Linked DNA regions of Homo sapiens. The protein of the gene in region 2 purifies or fractionates together with the protein of the main gene of each other region. This does not show direct contact. Each region holds a gene or a part of one and is shown on either strand. Other genes may lie near its edges.

Region 1 (7,000 bases), on a different chromosome or scaffold from region 2:
CTGCTCCCTCAGGGTCTGTAAGAAAAGAAAAAGGCAGGTGTCCTGTGAGGCTCTCCCTAGCCCTCTCCGGCAGCCAGAGGCCCTTTGTGAAGGGGAGCTCCTCCCACATACCAAGTGTTTGAATTCTGCAGAGAGGCTGCCGTTGTTGGATTCTTCCATGTTCATCACTTTTGTGTTTGTGCCCAGAATGTTAAATTTCCGGGATCTGAATCACAGGGGAACAATCAACTATGTAGGTGACCAAGTAGCCGGAGGATGAAGTTAGGTTAAACGGAACAAAAGGAAGCCTCTAGGCTGAACTTACCCTCTGAGAGCTGCAACGTCCCCAGAGTCTCTGTAAGAACACAGACTGTTGTTAATAAAATAGGCTCTGTGTTTCTTCAAAAAGCCTACTTTGACCACCTGTTATTTACTGTCATGAAAAAACCTCTGTGCTCCTGGGCATTTCTTTAAACTATTCAGTTACAGTTGATCAGCGCAACATAACACCTCTGCGTAGCAGGCACAGTTGGTTGCCTCCCCATAGGAAGGGGAACCTATGTTTCATATTGCATATGTACTTATTAAACCTACCACCTTCGTCAACTCCCTTATTTCATTATTTTCCAGTGCATCCTCATGAAATTTCCACATAATTACATCAACTAAAAATAAGAATGCATTTTATCTTTTCTTTTTTCTTTTTTTTTTTTTGAGATAGTTTCGCTCTTGTTGCCCAGGCTGGAGTGCAATGGTGTGATCTCGGCTCACCACAACCTCCACCTCCTGAGTTCAAGTGATTCTCCTGCCTCAGCCTCCCGTGTAGCTGGGATTACGGGCATGCGCCAACACACCTGGCTAATTTTGTATTTTTAGTAGAGACAAGGTTTCTCCATGTTGGTCGGGCTGGTTTCGAACTCTCGACCTCAGGTGATCTGCCCACCTCAGCCTCCCAAAGTGCTGAGATTACAGGCGTGAGCCACCGCGCCCAGCCACATTTTCTCTTTTCTTTTCTTTTTTTTTTTTTTTGAGATGGAGTCTCTGTCGCCCAGGCTGGAGTGCAGTGGTGTGATCTTGGCTCACTGCAAACTCCACCTCCCAGGTTCATGCCATTCTCCTGCCTCAGCCTCCTGAGTAGCTGGGACTACAGGTGCCCGCCACCACGCCCAGCTAGTTTTTTTGTATTTTTAGTAGAGACGGGGTTTCACCGTGTTACCCAGGATGGTCTCGATCTCCTGACCTCGTGATCCGCCCGCCTCGGCCTCCCAAAGTGCTGGGATTACAGGCATGAGCCACCGCGCCCGGCCCACATTTTCTCTTTTCTAATGTCGTCAAAGGGTATATGTATTTTACATCCTGAAAGGTATTGTGAAATTTTGCGTATTCCATTATATGGTAAAGTGTGGAACAATTAAAAAAAAGAGATCTATTCTTTCCACATGCTATGTATGGAAAGAATATATAACGACGTTTCGGTCAACAACAAAATGCATATATGATGGTGGTCCCATAAGATTATCATGGAGCTGAAAAATTCCTACTTCATTGAGATGTGTTACAATTGCCTACGGTATTCAGCACAGTAACATACTGTACAGGTTTACAGCCTACGACCAGTAGGCTCTGCCACATAGCGTAGGTGTGCAGTAGGTTCTGCCACCCAGGTTTGTGTAAGGACTATATACTCTACAACATTTGCACAACAAAATTGCCTAATGATACATTTTGCAGAACGTATCCCAGTCGTTAATTAACACATGATCTCAGTCTTATATATAATATGCATGAATGACATGTACAAGTAAAAAACTAAACAAGGAAAAGAGGGACTGGTTGTCACAATAGCAACCACAAATCAAATCTGTACCCCCAGCTTTGTGGCTTTGTTCAGACACGTAAATGACAATGCACCCCAAGGCTTTTGAAAACTTTTGTCCACAAAATGAAGATCTCTGAATAAAGACAGAGTCTCTAGTTCAAATGATGTCTGTCAAAGTTCTCATTTTTCTATTCCTCATTTGAAAAACAGAGCTAAGATAGGAGTACTTACTTGTCAATGCACACTTTAATTTTAAGCTGATAATTCAACTCAGGGAATTTGACCAGCAACCTATTTAAAAAGAAAAAATCCAAGGAAAAAAAGTCAGTAACTCTCCCATAACCTTTTCTTGAAGAAATGTAAAATTCATAATTCTTCATTTCCAACAGGTAAATAGGCCAAGCTGTCTATAATTACAGGCTCACATCTATAATCTCAGCACTGTGGGAGGCCAAGCTGGGAGGATCCCTTGAGCCCAGGAGTTCCATAACAGTCTGGGCAACAAAGTGAGAGCCCACATCTATAAAAAATTTAAAAATTAGCGGGGTGTGGTAGCATGTACCTGTAGTCGCAGTTACTCGGGAGGCTGAGGCAAGAGGATCACTTGTGCCCAGGAGTTCAAGGCTACAGTGATCTATGATCATGCCACTGCACTCTAGCCTAGATGACAGAGCGAGATCCTATCTCTCTTTCTCTTTTTTTTTTTTTGAGACAGTTTCTCTCGTTACCCAGGCTGGAGTGCAATGGCGCAATCTCCGTTCACCGCAACCTCCGCCTCCTGGGTTCAAGTGATTCTCCTGCCTCAGCCTCTCAAGTAGCTGGGATTACAGGCGCGCGCCACCACGCTCAGCTAATTTTGTATTTTTAGTAGAGACAGAGTTTCTCCATGTTGGTCAGGATGGTCTCGAACTCCCGACCTCAGGTGATCCACCCACCTTGGCCTCCCAAAGTGCTGGGATTACAGGCGAGAGCCACCGTGCCTGGCCCCTATCTCTCTCTTTAAAAAAATTAAAATAGGGCTGGGTGCGGTGACTCACACCTGTAATCCCAGCACTTTGGGAGGCCAAGGCAGGTGGATCACAAGGTCAGGAGTTCGAGACCAGCCTGGCCAAGATGGTGAAACCCCGTCTCTACTAAAAATACAAAAATCAGCCGGGCATGGTGGCAGGTACCTGTAATCCCAGCTACTTGGGAGGCTGAGGCAGGAGAATCACTTGAACCCAGGAGGCAGAGGCTGCAGTGATCCGAGATCACACCTCAGCACTCTAGCCTGGGTGATAGAGAAAGACTCCATCTCAAAAAAAAAAAAAAAAAAAAAAAGGCCGAGCGTGGTGGCTCACATCTGTAATCCCAGCACTTTTGGAGGCCGGGGTGGGTGGATTACTGAGGTCAGGAGTTTTGAGACCAGCCTGGCCAACATGGAGAAACCCTGTCTCTACTAAAAATACAAAAATTAGCCGGGCATGGTGGAGTGTGCCGGTCCAGCTACTCAGGGAGGCTAAGGCAGGAGAATCGCTTGAACCTGGGAGGTGGAGGTTGCAGTGAGTTGAGATTGCAACACGCACTCTGGCCTGGCCGAAAGAGCGAGACTCTGTCTCAAAAAAAAAAAAATTAGCCGGGTGTGGTGGCACGCACCTCTATTCCCAGTTACTCAGGAGGCTGAGGCACAAGAATCACTTGAACCTGGGAGATGGAGGTTGCAGTGAGCTGAGATCATGCCACTGCACACCAGCCTGGGTGAGAGTGAGACCCTGTCTCAAACAAAAACAAAAGATGAGTATCACTCCTTCAAGCCAAAGGTACTGAGAAAACATCTAAGAACTAACAACTTAAAGTTGTGAGAGATTCACAAAAGGATAATCAAAGCCATATAATGAAAAATATTACAGGAACACATGCTGTGCAGCTGGCATTTTGTTCTATTAATCCTGAAACCGAACACCATACTAAGTTTCTGAGGAGGGAAATTTTGCTGCAGAAGGTCAAAACCCCAGCACACCTGTTCTGACTTGAGTGTGAAAGTAACACCTCACCCTACAGGCCCACCACCCACCTGCCCTGGGGCCTCTCAGCTTCCCCATCACTAAGCCTTACTCTTTCCCTTAAAATCCACAGGGAAGAGTAGCCTCAAAGAACAGAAAATAGATGACATTATTTTGTCCCTTGGGCAGAAGGAGAAGCTGTGGCCTGAGACTCCAGGTCTACAATCATAGGAATATGCCCAGGTACCTTCAAAAAGATGACTGCTCTTTTGCTTTTGACATCAGAATCAGAGAGCAAGCAGATAGTATGGCAACAAATTTCAACCCCGCAACAGTGTACTGCCTGTGACACCACACCTGGAAAGAATGACCCTGGCCACCAACTCTACCCTCACCCTAACAGTGTCCCTCAGTAAAATCTCTACTGGAAATGGAAGTGGCATGGCCTACCTGACTTTAGTAGTGAACTGGACGCCGGTCTTGATGACGAGGGGCCGGTCAGGATGCATGGGCATGCAGGGCTGCCGCTCCACCACAAAGGCACTGAGGAAAGAGAAGATGGGCTCACGCGCCACGGCCATGACCAGAAGTCAGCCCGCCTCTCACTCTACCACGTGAGTCTTTAGGTATTTTTTAGATGAGGGAAAGGGACAAGGATGCTAAATTACCTTTTCATTAAGTTTCTAAACAGCTCCACGATTCTCTCCTCCAGCATCGGCCGGTGCTGTACAATGGGGTCCCCTTTGTAGGAAACTTTTTGCTGCAACTCCTCCAGTTTCTTAATTTGTTGACGGGTCTGAAGTTGAGATTCTGCTAATGACGTTATCCTGCCAATAAATTAAGAAAGATGCTAATTACCAAAGTGAATGTATACAGGTGAGATGGAGAAGGGGAAGGAAATACTGAAGACATGGAGACCACTACAATAAGAACAAGGAATTTTTTTATTGTGGTGAAATATATATAGCATGAAATTTACAATTTTTCATCTTAAGTTTACAGTTCAGTGACATTAAGAAAAGAGGAATTTTTCACCATGTTGGGTGGATGCTGAAAAAATAAATAAAAAAAGAAAATAATTTATTTATTTATTTATTTTTTGAGCTGGAGTGCAGTGGTGCAATCTCGGCTCACTGCAACCTCCATTTCCCGGGTTCAAGTGATTCTCCTGCCTGAGCCTCCTGAGAGATTACAGGTGTAAGCCACTGCGCCTGGCCTTTTTTTTTTTTTTTTTTTTTTTGAGATAGAGTCTTACTCTGTTGCCCAGGCTGGAGTGCAGTGGCACAGTCTCAGCTCACTGCAACCTCCGCCTCCCAAGTTCAAGTGATTCTCCTGCCTCAGCCTCCCAAGTAGCTGGGATTACAGGCACCCACCACCACTCCCGGATAATTTTTGCATTTTTAGTAGAGATGGGATTTTGCCTTGTTGGCCAGGCTGGTCTTGAACTCCTGACCTCAGGTGATCCATCTGCCTCGACCTCCCGAAGTACTGGCATTACAGGTGTGAGCCACCATGCCTGGCCAGAAAATAATTTATTTTACCTTTTATTACTAGTCCCTTCCTAAAATCTCAAATTTCTAAGAGGGGGCTGGGCACACAAGAAGTATTAAAATTTATACCACTAGGAGGCATTGATGGAGTTATCACTGGAAAATGACAAGCATCTGAGCCCAGATATGCAGAACACGAAATATGGAATTTAGCACTTACTTTACTCATCCTAACTTGTCTATGAACATAAAGACTCAGAAAAAGAGATTAGACAGCTCCCAAAGATGGGTTTGAGCCAGCTCTGTCACACACTATCTGTGCAAGCTTTGCCAGGCCCTTCACCATCATGGGCCTTAGCATCCCCTTGCATGAAGAGAAGGGCTTGAACTACATGAGCCCTTTCTTTTCTTTCTTTCTTTTTTTTTTTTTGAGACAGGGTCCCACTCTGTGGCCTAGTGCAGTGCAATGGCATGATCATAGCTCACTGCCTCCTCCAACTCCTGGACATGAGTGATCCTCCTACCTCAGCTTCCTGAGTAGCTAGAACTATAGGTGTGTGCCACCATGCCTGTTTAGTTTAGTTTAGTTTTTTGAGATGGAGTCTCACTCTGTCACCCAGGCTGAAGTGTAATGGCACATGTCTAGTTTTTTAAATTTTTGTAGGGATGGGATCTCACTTTGTTGCCCAGGCTGGTCTCAAACTCCTGGGTTCAAGTGATCCTCCCGACTCTGCCTCCCAAAGCATTGGGATTTACAGGCGTGAGCCACAACACCCAATCCCCATAAGCCTTTTCAATGTCAGCCTTCAACTGATCAAAGGACATGACATTATGTTTCAAAATATTGATAACATGCACAAGGAATAAGTGAATAGAGAGGGAGAAAAAGCTCATTAAATCTATCTCCAAGAATAGAGATATTAGGCCAGGTGCAGTGGCTGACACCTGTAATCCCAAAAATTTGAGAGGCCGAGGCAGGTCGATCTACTAAAATACAAAAAAATAGCCAGGCATGGTGGCATGGGCCTGTAATCCCAGCTACTTGGAAGGTTGTGACTAAGAATCGCTTGAACCTGGGAGGAGGAGGTTGCAGTAAGCCAAGATCATGCCACTGCACTCTAACCTGGGTGACAGAGTGAGACTCTGTCTCAAAAAAATTAAAAAAAGAGAGAAGTTAGCATCATTCCATCATTCTTTGATGGTTTATCACTAGTGTAACAAAGACCAAAAGACCAGAAAGACAGAAAGTGAAAGGAGAGGGAGGGGGACCGCTGCAGGGATTTCTGAACTCCTGAGCTCTTTTCTGGCACTTCTATCCTCCCATTCCCAGAACTTAAGCTTCTTCGTTCCCTGGTCAGGAAGCATTTAAAACTGCTTTCAGTAAATTAACAACACTCAGGGTTAGTGAGGATATGAATAGACAGGCATTCTCATGTAGAGTTGCGCTAAATTTCCAGTGCAGGCTCTGTATCTCAAGTTTCTCCTAAGGCAAGCTGGTGCAACATGCTCACTATAGGGCCTTGCACAGGAAGGGTTGCAGTAAGATATGCTGGATGAAGGTAAAAGTGCAAATTACAGAAAAGCATATAAAGGAAGATCCTGGGCTGGGCACGGCAGCTCACATCTATAATTCCAGAGCTTTTGAGAGGCCGAAGTGGGATGATCCCTTGAGCCCAGGAATTTGAGACCAGCCCAGGCAACAAAGTAAGACCCTGTCTCTATAAAAAATT
Region 2 (7,564 bases):
TACTAATCCATCCTATCCAATATTACCAAATAAATTTTCCAAAGTGACCTTCTGATCCTGTTTCTTTGTCTTTAAAAAGGGTTAGGTAACACTATTAGTGTGTGGCAGATCTCAGATTCCACCTGAGAATCTCCACCCTTTTCCCCATTTTAATATGAAGCCCCATTTTTAATATGGCCTATGCCTTTCCACAAATCAGATGCTCAATATATAATTTTTAAATTAAAAGATTCAAGAAATTTGGGACTATTTTTTAAGAATAGAAGGAAGAAACATGATAGCTACCCTCAGATATTTGAAAAGGATATCAAACAAAAGGCGGATTTGGTAATTTATACAACTCCAGAGAGTAATAAATAGGAATTACAACATGGCAGTGCTTTGTTTAATAGAGTTAAAGCAGTGTTGAAGTTACACTCTATGAGAATTTTTAAAACCGTGTTTTCATTTTGGTGGCATTGTAAAAAAAGAAAAGGCATATTCTACATCATCTAAATGATCTCTCCATAGTTCTGTATACTTGCCTCAAGCCTTCTGTGTTTGAGGCTGCATTTGTTTATGATCAAACTGTTACCAAATGACCACTAAAAGGAACAAGGTTACATTTTTTAATGCAGTATACATACTCAGACTGAGGTCACTGGGTACATCTCAAAAATTCAGAGGATTATTTTGCTCCAAAAGAGATCTGAACATTAATCCTGTGTTAAGAAACACAGGAATAAAAAAGAAAATAAGTAGATTGTCTTGTGAGAATGTTTTGTGTATGTATGTCTGAAAATTCTAAAAGCAGACTGGCCAATGCGCCTGTGGTGGTTGACATTAAATAACAAAACTTAAACCCAAAAGTCTGTACTTCGCAAGAACCTCAAACTTTAAAGTGCAATGAACTGAAAATTTAAAAATGGAATATGCTATGAATGAATGAATGAACATAAAAAATGGAATGTTCAACTGTGGCCTAAGCCATCAACGATTCAATGCTGTACTCAATAAATTAGCTGCACAAATACCTGTTGAATAAATGAATGCACAACAATCTGTTACAGGACATAGTATAATAGTTAGGTGCCTGAGTCATGGTTAAGCGTTGAAGAAATTTTTTGAACCACTGAAATAAGTCAACTTAAATTATTCAAGAAAATATCCCTTCATCCATTCACAGTGAAGGCTTTGACTACTGGTTTGACACTATAACCATTTAAATATTTTAACTATGTTAGCTACAAAGGCAGGCAATATCCAACTTTCCTCTGCTAACAAGTTAAAAGACATTTAATGAGATTCTGGACACAAAGGACATGGAAATGTAGGCTTTCTTAATTTCCCCCTCCTTTAACATCCCAAATAAATAGCTTTGAGAACATTTTTCTTCCTTTAGTATTACCACTATGGAAAATTATTTTAGAATAACATGTCTATACATAAACCAGTATTTAGTCTGCAAAGGCCAGATGTTTATGGAAAAAAAACCAAGTAAAGGAAAAGCATCAGTAACTATTCTGCCACTATTATTTACTCACTGGTGGTGAATAGCCTTCGTCAGATTATCACAAAGAAGGCTTGAGCGATTCTAAACAATGTTGAAAACAACTTAACCAATACTATAATATTATGAATATATGGATAGTTTCTACTTAATTAAGCCCTTACTTTGTGCCAAGAGCTGTTCTGAGTGTTTCATATGAGTTGATGTATCATTTCATTCTCATAACAATCCTATAAGGCAATTATTCTTATCATCCCAATAAAGCAATTTGTGTAAGATCACACAGTAGAGCTAAACGATCTAGAAAAATGTGTGATCTTAACACATATTTAGTAGAGAAAAGGATCATCTTTTTCTTGAGATGAAAACCCTAACCCATAGAAGAAATACTCAACTTCCCAAAAGTCATGACAAGAACAGCTTGCAGAATGACTACACTTGGTAGAAAACTATAGAATATGAATTCAAATGACTTGCAACAAAAACTCATGGCCCATTAATTACTGGTCAAGAGTTCTGTGTATAGTAAGATAATATTCTACAAGAAGACCATCAAATATGCTACAATAAGACATATTTGACTCATGTAATCAGGGAACTCCATTCACATGGCCAAGTAGGGCAAAACGTTTTCTTCTAGGAAACTGATATATAGACACTAGAAGAGAGAGGGAGTTTTTTTTACTTTTTTTTTTTTTATATTACAAACTGTATGGATGCAGGTATGGGGATGCTAGCCGTCCTCTTCCACACCATACAGACAGCCTGTCAGTGGCAGAGTAAGGCCAGCATGCAAATAGAGCAAAGGTATACAAGCCAAGTAATATCAAGACAAAAGTCAGGGATTATTACACTCTGAGATCATTTGAGACTCTAGATTTGTCTCTTAAACCAAAATTAGATTGTGTTAGCCAATGACTACATTTTCCCCTCTTAAACTAGATTGAGTTGTATTTTGCTACTTGCAATAAGAAGAATCCTAATATACTTATCAAATTGCCAGTGTTCCAAATTTAAAACTTTAATGATGATAAAGTTCAAGAAAATGACACTCTAAAATACAACTAGGTCAAACTTTCTAGAAGATAAACAGGCAATTACATTGAAAGCTTTAAAATGGATACTTTTTGACCCTGTAATTCTACTTCTTCTAATTTATTATTAAGAAAGAACCATGAGGCCGGGCATGGTGGCTCACGCCTGTAATCTCAGCACTTTTCTCACTTTTTTGAGAATAGGTTTGATAAAAAGGCAGTAATGGTAAAACAGACTATATCTGAAATCTGGAGAGTATTAAGAGCCATATATTATGTTAAGTACCCAACATTAATATTATCTAATTTAACCATCACCACAAGCCTACAAAATTCTGATACTCTTCCTCACTATTTAGATGGGAAAAAATGTAGATGTAAATTTTTTAAAAGCAGGTTAAAAACAGTACTCAGTCCCTAATCCTACAGTTATTAACATACAGATGTAACACAGAATTGAGAAATAGTAGACAATGGTCTCTACATAGTGAAAAAGCAGGTGATTTTTATTTCTTTGTGCACCTGTGTAGTTTTTAAATTTTTTCCTCCAAAATTTTAAAATTTCATTAACATTAAAATAGTTTAGCCAGATCAAATGATTGTAAACACACTCAGGGAACTCCTATTTAAATGGTATTCTATTATAAAGCAAAGAGAATAATCAATGCTCTTCTATTATAAAGCAAAGAAAATAAACCCCAACCTTACTATAAAGTAATAGAATTTAAATATCTATATCAAAAAAAGTCAAAGGAGATTCTTTAACTTTCTTCTTACCAATCAGTGAATCTCAGACAGGGAACTAAAGAATTAAAACATTCTTTTTAATTTTTTTTTTTTTTTTTTGGAGACAGCATCTCACACTGTCATCAGGCTGGAGTGCAGTGGCGCGATCTTGGCTCACTGCAACCTCTGCTTCCCAGGTTCAAGCGATTCTCCTGCCTCAGCCTCCGAGTAGCTGGGATTACAGGCATGTGCCACCACATCCTGCTATTTTTTTTTTTTTTTTTTTGTATTTTTAGTAGAGACGGGGTTTCTCCAAGTTGGTCAGGCTTGTCTTGAACTCCTGACCTCAGGTGATTCACCTGCCCCGGCCTCCCAAAATGGTGGGATTACAGGCAGGAGCCACCGTGCCGGGCCGACAATATTTCTAAAGAAACCTTTTAAAAACCTGCATTCTCTTTGTTCATCCAATTATTCAATCATTGTCTCATTTGTTAATTCAAATACTTATTAAGAGCTCACTGTGTACACCACGTACCAGTATTCACACCACAGATTTCTTTTTTAATTTTTTTGAAACACAGTCTTGCTCTGTCACCCAGGCTGGAGTGCAATGGGGCGATCTTGGCTCACCGCAACCTCCGCCTCCCAGGTTCAAGCAATTCTCCTGCCTCAGCCTCCTAAGTAGCTGGGATTACAGGCACCCGCCACCACGCCTGGCTAATTTTGGTATTTTTAGTAGAGATGGGGTTTCACCATGTTGGCCAGGCTGGTCTCGAACTCCTGACCTCAGGTGATCCACCCACCTCGGCATCCCAAAGTACTGGGATTACAAGCATGAGCCACCGCGCCCAGCCCACAAATTTCAAATTCAGCCTACTTGGGATTTGGTCCACTGAAACATATCCAGTTTTATAATGGAAAGGGGGAGGGTAGAAATCATTTTAAAGAAATTTGCTTAGCATCTGAATTTACAAGACTCTTAAGAACAGAAACGTATCCCAACCCTCAAAGACTTCAACTTTCGCCTTTAAACCTTATTTTTAACCATAGTATTTTTCAGCTGGAAAAACAAATCCTCCCAAACTACTTGGAAAAAAAAAAGGGGGAAACACGGGGGACCTGTCCTTAATGAGTGAAAATTGCAATATTAAATACTAGACACTTTTAAATTAATTTGCCTAAATATATTGTGACTTTTCAAACAAGTGAAGAACTACATACAGTAAACTATGTTCCATCACTACATTTTCCCATTTACAAGATAATAAATTTTCAAAATCATATGTTGAAATAATCTTTATGGTTAAAACTGTAACCGGTTAAGGTGAAATTTTAAAATAAAGAAACACTCATAAATAACAGTTGAGATCACCAGAACAGCTAAAAGCTAACATCTTGGGAACAGTTTTTAATAAAAATACATTATTTCAATTATTGTTTTAAATCTTAGAGAACAAATTTCCTAATTAAATTGGGCTTTATCAACAATAGAACAGGTGTACACTATTTTACCCAAAAAGTGTTTCTGTGAAAAAGTACTGGCATAACAAATCTAAGTCACTAGAAAAATTGAATTCTCCTTTTAGAGGTACTTACTCTCCTTTCAGTTAAAGCTTCCACTGGCAAACTGTAGTTAGCTTTCAGCTGGTTAATTATCCACAAACAAGCCCTTAAAAACAATCACTTCAACATATTAGATGGCTACCACTTTGCCACATTAGATGGCTAAGAAAGAAAGAGAAGAGAAGGAAGGAAAGAAAGAAAACAAGTGTTTAGAAGGATGTGGAGAAATAGGAACCCTTGTGCACTGTTGGTGGGAATGTAAACTGGTGCAACTGCTATAGAAAACAATATGGTGGTTCCTTGAAAATTAAAAAGGGTTACCATATGATCCAGCATCCCTCTTCTGGATATGTATCCAAAAAAAGTGAAAGCTTCAAAGAGAGATTTGCAGACTCATGTTCAGAGCAGCACAATAACCAAGATGTGGAAGCAACCCAAGTGTCCGTTGCTGGATGAATGGAGAAACAAAATATGGAACATATAATGGAATATTGCTCAGACTCAAAAAGGAAGGAAATTCTGACACATGCTACAACATGGATGAACCTTGAGGACATTACACAAAGTGAAATAAGCCCATCACAAAAATATTAAAACCCTATAATTCTATTTATATGAGGCATCTAGAGTAGTTAAATTTGCAGAAACAGAAAGTAAAATGGTGGTTGCCAGAGGCTGAGGAGAGGGGGAAATTGGGAGTTGTTTAATGGGTAAGATTTCAGCTTTGCAAGATGAAAAAGTTCTGGAAGTTAGTGGCACAATGTGAATATACTTAACACTACTGAACAGTACTTAGAAATGGTTAAGATGGTAAATTTTAGGTTAATGTTTTTGAACTACGATTTTAAAAAACAATCAAAAGCTATAAGAAAAAAGCCATGAGGTAATCACATTTTTGTTTTTATGAAACAAAAATTTTAAATTTTGTTTTAAAAATTCAGGTTTTAGATACTAGATTTCTCTAAAGGGATCATGTCTGGCAAATAAATAAGGGTTTATAAATTTCTACTGCAGAAAACATGAACATTAATACTCAACGCATATACAAAACAGTTAATTCTTGATGTGTCAAGAGACCAAGAGATATAATTATTTTTAAAATTCCAAAGCCTATAGTTAATTTAAACAATCTGACCATATTTTTACCAAAAATACTGAGCAACAAGAAGCTTGGCTTGTCTTAGTTTCAAATTCTCTTTCTAACCTTCCAGAGTTAAGCAGAAAACACATACACACACTGGGTAAAATCCACCCACTGGATAACTAGTCACAAAGTTTAAAAAATCAATTTCTTGATTGGAAACTCATCCAACATCACATTTAAATTTAGATTTTTTTATCCTGGTTAAGAAACAGACTTATGTTAATCTTAGATAAAGGGATACAGTATTTTAAGTATCTAAATTTAAAAAATTATATACTAAGAGAAGGCATCTATGAACACACAATTTAACCCAAATCTTTAACATCCATGCACATCAATTTTTATTTCACCACCAAACATAATAAACTGAGTTCTTCAGAAAAAAAAAAAAAATCAGTCAAGAGACTAAATAATCCCCCTCAGCTTTCTATACACCACTCTTGACATACAAGAATAGAATGTAACCACAAAATCTAAACCCTGAGCCGTGACACCATTAGAGTCACAGACAATGGCGTTAAAAGTAAAGACAATGGAAGTTAACAGGTAGAAAAGTTGACATTCTCCAAACTGCACAAGGTGCTCTGCAGTGGACCGTAGGAATGAACTCCAATACTTTCTCAGTCTAAAATAACTCGATAGTTCAGTAAATACACACGTGTGGAAGAGTGCATAGACTTCATACAAATTGAGCCACAAAACAGACCAGTAAGACAAGCTTGAAGTCTTGCCTTCAGATGGAACCCAATGGTCTTAACTCTGGAGAAACTCATAAGCAAAGGACAGTTTTTCTACCACGTAGCTGCTTTACTGAGAATATTTTATCAACTCATTATCTTTTACAAAGGTTAATTTTTATAAAATTGTCTAAACTTTGGCATCAAGACGAAAAATGTTTTAACTTACTGCCAGTACTAAGAATGCAGTGTCTTGCACATATCTTGCTTAAATGAACAGTAAGACTAGAATACTGTGTATGTTTGACTCTAGAGTCCAGAGTAAACTCAGTATTCTATTTGGGGAGAAAACACAGGGGTGAGCAATTGTGAAGCAGGAGGCCTCCACTAGAGTAGAGAGCAGATCAGATGCTCAAGAAAAATAACTGATACTAGGTGCCAATATAACCCAAGGATGTACTCTTTTGCCCATTGTAACAGGAAAAAAACGCTTTTCAAGCTCTGGATCCAATGTTAGTCTTTTCACTTTCAGGAGATAGAAAAGATGCATGAAGACACAGAAAAGAAACTAAAGGAAACAGCTGGAAGGACTAGCAAAAAAGAGTTTTAAGAGTTGTGGAAGTTTAAACAAGAATTTTAACAGGTAACATCTATTTTCAAGTACACAGTGTCATCAAGACTCCTGCAATGGGCTAAGTGCTTCACAAGCATTATCTCATTTAACCTTTACAATAACTGCTCAGATGGCTGCTATTCTTATCATCATTTCAAAAGGAGGAAAGAGGCTCAGAGGCATTCAGTAACTTGCTCAAGCTCACAAGTGAAGGGCTGGGACCCTTAACTCAGAGGTATCTGCCTCTAGATCCTATGCTCTTAACCACCATATGCTGCTTCCTCAAACAAAAGGACAATCAAAATAGAATCATAAGGA
Region 3 (7,095 bases), on a different chromosome or scaffold from region 2:
ATGGTGAAACCCCATCTCTACTAAAAATACAAAATTAGCTGGGCGTGGTGGCACGTGCTTGTAATCTCAGCTACTCGGGAGGCTGAGGCAGGAGAATAGCTTGAACCTGGGAGGCGGAGGTTGCAGTGAGCCAAGATCGCACCATTGCACTCCAGCCTGGGCAACAAGAGCGAAACTCCATCTCAAAAAAAAAAAAAATTATCGAGGACTTAGAAGAGCTTATGTTCATGTGGGTTATATCTATTGTATTATGCCATTCTTGTATTGTTATAATGAAATACCTGAGACTGTGTAATTGATGAAATAAAGAGGTTTAATTGGCTCATGGTTCTGCAGGCTGTACAAGAAGCACGATCCTGGCATCTGCTCAGTGTCTAGGGAGGCCTCAGGAAACTATCTATCTATAAATAGTTATTGTATTAGAAATTTAAAGGATAAAAATTTTTAAATTACTGATTAATTTTAAAAATAATAAACCAAACACATTTAACATAAATTGCATGCTTTTATGAAAAATAACCATATTTTCCAAAATAAAAAAAATTTGATCAGAGGAAAAGGATTGCTTTTGTATTTTTGCAACTCTCTAAATATTTGATTTAATAGAAGATAGCTAGGTTCTCTATGGTTGAAATATATGAAGAAACTCAGGCCTTTGAAAGAAAATTAAATAGTCTTTTTGGATAATTATGGATATTCTTCTTTGATACTATAGTGAAATTCAACAAGTGGTAATTTCTTCTTCTTTTCTTTTCTTTTTTTTTTTTTTTTTTTTTTGAGAGAAGGTCTGCCTTTATTGCCCAGGCTGGGTGCAGTATGGCGTGATCTTGGCTCACTGCAACATCTGCCTCCCAGGTTCAAGTGATTCTCCCACCTCAGCCTCCCAAGAAGCTGTGACTACCAGCACACACCACCATGCCTGGCTAAATTTTGTATTTTTTGTAGAGATGGGGTTTTGCTATATTGTCCAGGCTGATCTCAAATTCCTACACTCAAGAGATCTGCCCACCTCAGCCTCCCAAAGTGCTGGGAGGCATGAGCCACCAAGTCTGTCAATTGTTCTTTCAAGTAAAAATGGCCTTCCATTGTAATGGCCAGATGGGTTCTTCTTGGCTACTGCACAGACAAAATTCACCGAGACCAAGGTATTGCAGTAGAGAAAGTGTTTAATTGACCCAAGGCCAGTCACATAGGAGAACTGGAGTTATCACTCAAATCAGTCTCCCCCTGGGTTGGAGGTTGGGGTTTTTATGGACAATTTGGTGAGCAGGGGACTAGAGAATGGGTTCTGCTGATGGGTTGGGGATGGAATCATAGGGGTGTGGAAAACAGTCCTTGAGTGCTGAGCCTGCCTCTGGGTGGGGCCATAGGACCAGTTCTGAGTCATGAGTCACGAGTCCAGGTGGGGTCAGTCTGAAAAATATCTCAAAAAGCAATCTAAAGTTGTACAATACTGATGTTATTTATAGGAGCAACTGGGGAAGTCACAAATCTTGTGACCTCTGGCCACATGACCCCTGAGCAGTAAGGGAGTATATTAATAGAAATATGCCTACACTTTAGCAAAGTTCACACCCCTCCCATAATCCTATTCTTGCTGCTTTTCATTAGTCTTCCAAAGGTGGTTTTTCATCCCTAAGCAAGAGCAGGGGTAGTTTTAGGGAGGAACTTAGCTTTCAAGTTAAACCATAAACTAACTTCCTCCCCAAATTAAGTTGGCCTATGCCCAGGAATGACCAGGAACACCTTGGAGGTCAGAAGCAAGATTAAATCAATGAGGTCAGATTCCTCTTACTATCATGTTTTGCAAAGGCAGTTTCACCATGAAAAATGCAGGTAGTTCAGCCTGTAAGTCAACCACACAAGTGCTTTTCTTCAAGACAGCCATCCCACTTTGGCATGCAGAAGTGCATGTGTACTTCCCATTTCTTCACACAGAGTATTAGAAAGACTTGTATTCAAGGGCCAAAATTTAATAAAATTAATGCTTCCGCTTCATCCAGGATATTCCTAAATCAATAGCCTTAAAAACTGGGAATGTATGGCAGTGAAGAATACAGCGATCCAATGACCACCCGGACAGGTTGGTGGCACTGTCTTGATCCCTGCTAAGGCATCAATAGTGTCCGTATTCCTTTGCACCATCAGTACAAAAACAAACTCAGTCAAAAAGACAGAGGAGGCCAGGCATGGTGGCTCACTCCTGTAATCCCAGAACTTTTGGGAGGCTGAGGTGGGCAGATCGCTTGAGCTCAGGAGTTCCAGAGGAGCCTGGGCAACATAGTGAGACCCCATGTCTACCAAAAATACAAAAATTAGCTGGGTGTGGTGGCGCACGCGCCTGTAGTCACAGCTGCTTCGGAAACTGAGATGGTACACTCGCTTGAGCCCAGGAGTTTGAGGCCGCAGTGAGCTATGATCAGGCCACTGCACTCCTGCACTCCAGCCTCAGCGACAGAGGGAGACCCTGTGTCAAAAACAAAAACAAAACAAAACAAAAAGCAGGGGGGGCCTGACACGGTGGCTCAGGCCTGTAATCCTAGCACTTTGGGAGGCTGAGGTGGGTGGATTGCCTGAGCTCAGGAGTTCAAGACCAGCCTGGGCAATGTGGTGACATGGTGAAACCCTGTCTCTACAAAATACAAAAAATTAGCCGGGTGTGGTGGCGGGCTTCTGTAATACCAGCTACTCGGGAAGCTGAGACAGGAGAATCACTTGAACCCGGGAGGTGCAGGTTGCAGTGAGCTGAGATTGTGCCGCCACTGCATTCCAGCCTGGGTGACAGAGCAAGACTCTGTATCCAAAAAAAAAAAGGACCAGACATATTGCATTGTTAACAAACTAGTTGTTAACCTTATGACCTCTGTAAAGGTCTCAGGGATTTCCAGAGGTCTGGGGACCACACTTTGAGAATCACTAGATTAAAAGGGGGAAAACATGGGAGGAAAAAAAGGTCACATAATGGAAACATACTGTTGGATTGAATTTCGTATATAAAAACCCTTTACTGAAATAAAGAGTAGAGACTTCAAGTACCAAGAGAAGCAGATTAGAAGAGGAGGAAGGCTCTAGGGACTGATCAGGTCTGGAGGCAGGGTTTTAAATGGGCCTTGAAGGGTTCGTGCAGTTTGGAAGGAAGGGATGGGAGGGAAAAGCTTGCTGAATCGTATAAATGAACAAGACCCTGATGGTGAGCTCTTGAGGATATGAAAGGCAAAAAGCACTAAGGCCGGGCTTTTGTTCCTCTGTGGCCCTGCATATATGAGGAGGTGATGAGTAATTCTATATTTTTATCAGCTTTACCGTTTAAAACTCCAAGGGAGGAAAACCCTTCAAACTGATAGGCTTGGGGCTTGGTGAAGGTGGGGTATTAGTGAAAAAGATGTGAAGTTTCTTTATCGAAAATACATGTATGTCCAAGAAATTCTCTGTAGATAAAAACTAACAAGAAAAAGAGTTTGTCAGAGAGGAAAAGTAGTTTTGCTAATTTATTTTTGATCATTTGCAAAGCCCATGGAAGTGTGTGGCAAGAGGATTGTGGTGTCTTAGGATATTCACATAGGTCTGAAACAAGGAAAACATACTTCTGTTGAAAGCACCATTCCAACATATTGTTATTAGCAGTCCCTGAACTAACGGGTAGTGGGTGGGTACTGTGTCCATCAGCTCAGCGAACCGCAATTGCCTCATTGACAGCAAGCCCAGCAAGGAATCACTTGGAATATTAATTTCCGTGGCCTTTCGCAATCACACGAAGCTTGGCTCCCTGCGCTTGCCGTAACGCGGCCTGTACCATTGCTTTCCGGGTGGCGGGGGGGATTTGGCAGCAGCGGAAGAAGGAGACCGGAGGGTGTGTGTTGGGCAAAGCCGGAGGCAGAGGAGGACGATTGTTTTACGGATCCCGTGATCGGCCCGTCCTTCTCCCCTTTCCCCCCCTCCCTACCGCCCCTGTCCCGCCGGGGAGCGGCGGCGGCCTTGGACTTTGCTGTCTTTCCTCGCGGAGACAGGTGAGTGTCGGCGCGCGGGCTCCCCGGGCTTCGCTCCCCACCCCCCGCGTCTCCGGGGCCGGTGGCGGCGGCCGGCCGGGGAGGCGGCCTCGGCGCACAGTAATGGCAGCGCTGTGAGCAGGGGAACGCGAGCTGACAGCCGCCGCCGCCGCCGCCTCCGCCCACCTTCCTCGCCGGGGCTTCGTCTTTCACTCCTTCGGGCTGCCTCCCCCTCCCCTTGTCCCCTGCCCCTTGCCCTGCTTCTGCAGAAGGTAACCCCGCTGAGGGTCGGGGAGCCGGGCTGCAGGCGCCGGGAAACTTCCCTTCCCGGTTAATGGGTGGCGGGGCTGGGGCGGAGGAGAGGAGTTGGGGGCGACGAGGTGTGGGGAGAGGGATGAAAGGGGGAGGCCCGGGAAGATGGTATCCTGTAAGTGACCTCGGCTCCCCAGAGCGCTGACCCGTAAGCCCTGCCACCCCCTGGACTGGATCCCGGGCCTCCCCAACCCGATCTTGGCCGCCTCTCCCGCGGCCCCATTTTCCTTCGAAGGAGGGAAGGTGAGAGTGCGTGTATTCTTCTACATATTTACGTGCTCACACGAATACACAACTCTGTGTGTTTGTGTGTGTGTGTGGGGGGGGGCATCTCATGCATCCTTACCCCGAGTGTTTTCACTTTTGTTTCCGCAGACTGCAAAGATTGATAGCTTTGGGGAGGAGTATCCTACGTGCATGCTAGACTTCTTGTCTCAACCCTTAGGGTCTGGTGAAATAAGATCCTCACACGCTTTCTAGCACTTGCTTACCCTCTAGAGAGTCTGGACCATTCCCTACCATTACGTGCATGCAAATAAAACATCTGTGAATTGCAGACTGTTATTAATGTTAAGTCCACATCTTTGCCCCATGGATTAATATTAACAGTTGAAGGCCAGTACCCTGGGCGTTTAAATTTTGAAGATAAGATGCAAAATATTAACGTTCGCTATAGATTGTGACTGTTCAACATAAACGTCTTTGAACTAGACCTGGCCAAGCCTACCTTCGTAGTAAAGTATCGGAAATAATCACTTTGATCTGATTGACAACTGACTACATAATAATCGCTTAAAAACATTCAAAACACTGTTGCCTACCCTTTAGAATCTTACATTCCTTTTCAAGACAGACACATGAACAAATGAGCTATACTTTGCTTCTTTTGCCCTTATACAGTATCTGGAAGATCCTTCCAAAAGAGTCGCGTGAGATAAGAGAAGTACACAGTTTTTTTGTTTTGAGATGGAGTTTTGCTCTTGTCACCCAGGCTGGAGTGCAGTGGTGCGATCTCGGCTCACTGCAACCTCCGCCTCCCGGGTTCAAGCAATTCTTCTGCCTTAGCCTTCCATGTAGCTGGGATTACTGGCATGCGCCACCATGCCCGGCTAATTTTGTATTTTTAGTGGAGATGGGGTTTCACCATGTTGGCCAGGCTGGTCTTGAACTCCTGACCTCAGGTGATTCGCCTGCTTAGGCCTCCCAAAGTGCTGGGATTACAGGCCTGAGCTACTGCGCCCAGCCCACAGTGTTTTGAATTACTTGTTTTTTTCAATTGCTGTTTATGAGTTGGGGGAACATTTCTACAATGTGCATGCACATAGCGTGGGAAAAATTCCTTTTCAATTGCTTTTTGAGTATTTGGATGTTCTCCTGCATCTGAAATACTCTTCATTCTCCATCCTTGCTGGTGGCTTTCAGTGTTCTATAAATGTGAAGATTATCCATGTCTTTTACCCTCACCAGTTTGTCACTAGATTAAACGTTATGGACCTTCTTTAAAGTCATTTTTGCGTTGTCTGGCAGTTGACAGATATTTATTAAGCACCTGGTTTATTTGTCAAGCAGGGCTGCAGGCATTAAGGTTACAAGGGTAAACAAGACACATTACATTTCTTTTTTTTTTTTTTTTTTTTTTGAGGCGGAGTCTCGCTCTGTCACCAGGCTGAAGTGCGGTGGCACGATCTGGGCTCACTGCAACCTCCCAGTTCAAGCAATTCTCCTGCCTCAGCCTCCTGAGTAGCTGGCACTACAGGCGCACGTCACCACGCCCAGCTAATTTTTGTATTTTTAGTAGAGACTGGGTTTCAACATGTTGGCCAGGGTGGTCTTGATCTCTTGACCTCATGATCCGCCCTCCTCAGCCTCCCAGAGTGCTGGGATTATAGGCGTGAGCCACCACACCTGTCCAACCCATTAAATTTCTATCCTCTTGGAGTGTCACTTCTGGCTTGGGATGGAGAGACAGACAGTATATAAGAAATAATCTCAGAGAATAAGTGCTGTGTGGGAAATAAGGTAAGGAGTTGTGGTAGTGATTGGGAGATTACTTCAGATACTGTAACCAGAAAAGAACTTCCTGAGGTGAAGTTTGAAATTCTGAGGGAACAGTTTTCCTATTTTAGGGAGGAACAAATGGAAAAACCCTGAGGTGCTATCAAACTTGGATTGAACAAACTGAAATTGGCTTAAGGTGGACCCTAGTAAGAGATTAAAGGTGGGTCCTAGCCAGGGGCTGGATCATGTTGGCTTTGTTCTTAGATACATTAAAAGGCTTTTGGAACTCTTCTAAACTGAGAGGTCTGATTGAGAATCAGACTGTTGATTGGAGAAGAGAGACACAAGGAGACCAGTGAGAAGAGCAGTGGCTGTGGAGGGTTAAGGTACAAGTGAAAACGTTTTGAGATTTATTTTGGAGTTGAAGATACTTATTGAAATTGTCATGTTTTGGATGAGCATGCAGTTGGGATGGGTCAATTCTGGGTTTTTGGCTTCTGCTGGAGGATGATGATGCTGTGTACTGAGATGAAGAAGAGGTTGGGGGAAGCAGGCTGTTGTATGGGATGGGGTTGGATTGGACATGTTAAGTTGGATTTCGTTGTTCAAGTGGAGGTGAGAAGTAGGTGATTGGAAATAAGTGTGGAACTTAGAGGTTAAGGAGTGATTCAGCCATCCAACGAGGGCTTCTCAAGCACCAGCTTTAAACCAGATGTGTGGATATAGTGGTTAAAAAATTTCTGGCTTCATGGAACTTAAGTTCTAGTGAAGAGAGGAAAATGGATATGGAGAGTCATCA

What was found. Proteins that work in one complex are often made in the same cells at the same time.
Region 1: the proteins of HIF1A (region 2) and STAT3 purify together in Homo sapiens (affinity purification with western blotting; 4 studies listed by BioGRID). This does not show direct contact.
Region 3: the proteins of HIF1A (region 2) and CUL2 purify together in Homo sapiens (affinity purification with western blotting; 7 studies listed by BioGRID and IntAct, with this or other methods). This does not show direct contact.

The regions. Positions count from the first base shown.
Region 1 is NC_000017.11:42,329,443-42,336,442, forward strand, and holds part of STAT3 (signal transducer and activator of transcription 3), read right to left. Parts: intron 4,608-7,000; coding exon 4,449-4,607; intron 4,324-4,448; coding exon 4,231-4,323; intron 2,090-4,230; coding exon 2,030-2,089; intron 350-2,029; coding exon of another isoform or gene 335-349; coding exon 305-334; intron 206-304; coding exon 112-205; intron 16-111; coding exon 1-15. UniProt on the Homo sapiens protein: Signal transducer and transcription activator that mediates cellular responses to interleukins, KITLG/SCF, LEP and other growth factors. Once activated, recruits coactivators, such as NCOA1 or MED1, to the promoter region of the target gene.
Region 2 is NC_000014.9:61,698,245-61,705,808, reverse strand, and holds part of HIF1A (hypoxia-inducible factor 1-alpha), read right to left. Parts: intron 1-7,564.
Region 3 is NC_000010.11:35,087,342-35,094,436, reverse strand, and holds the start of CUL2 (cullin-2), read left to right. Parts: upstream 1-4,095; 5' UTR 4,096-4,258; intron 4,259-4,435; exon of another isoform or gene 4,436-4,541; intron 4,542-7,095.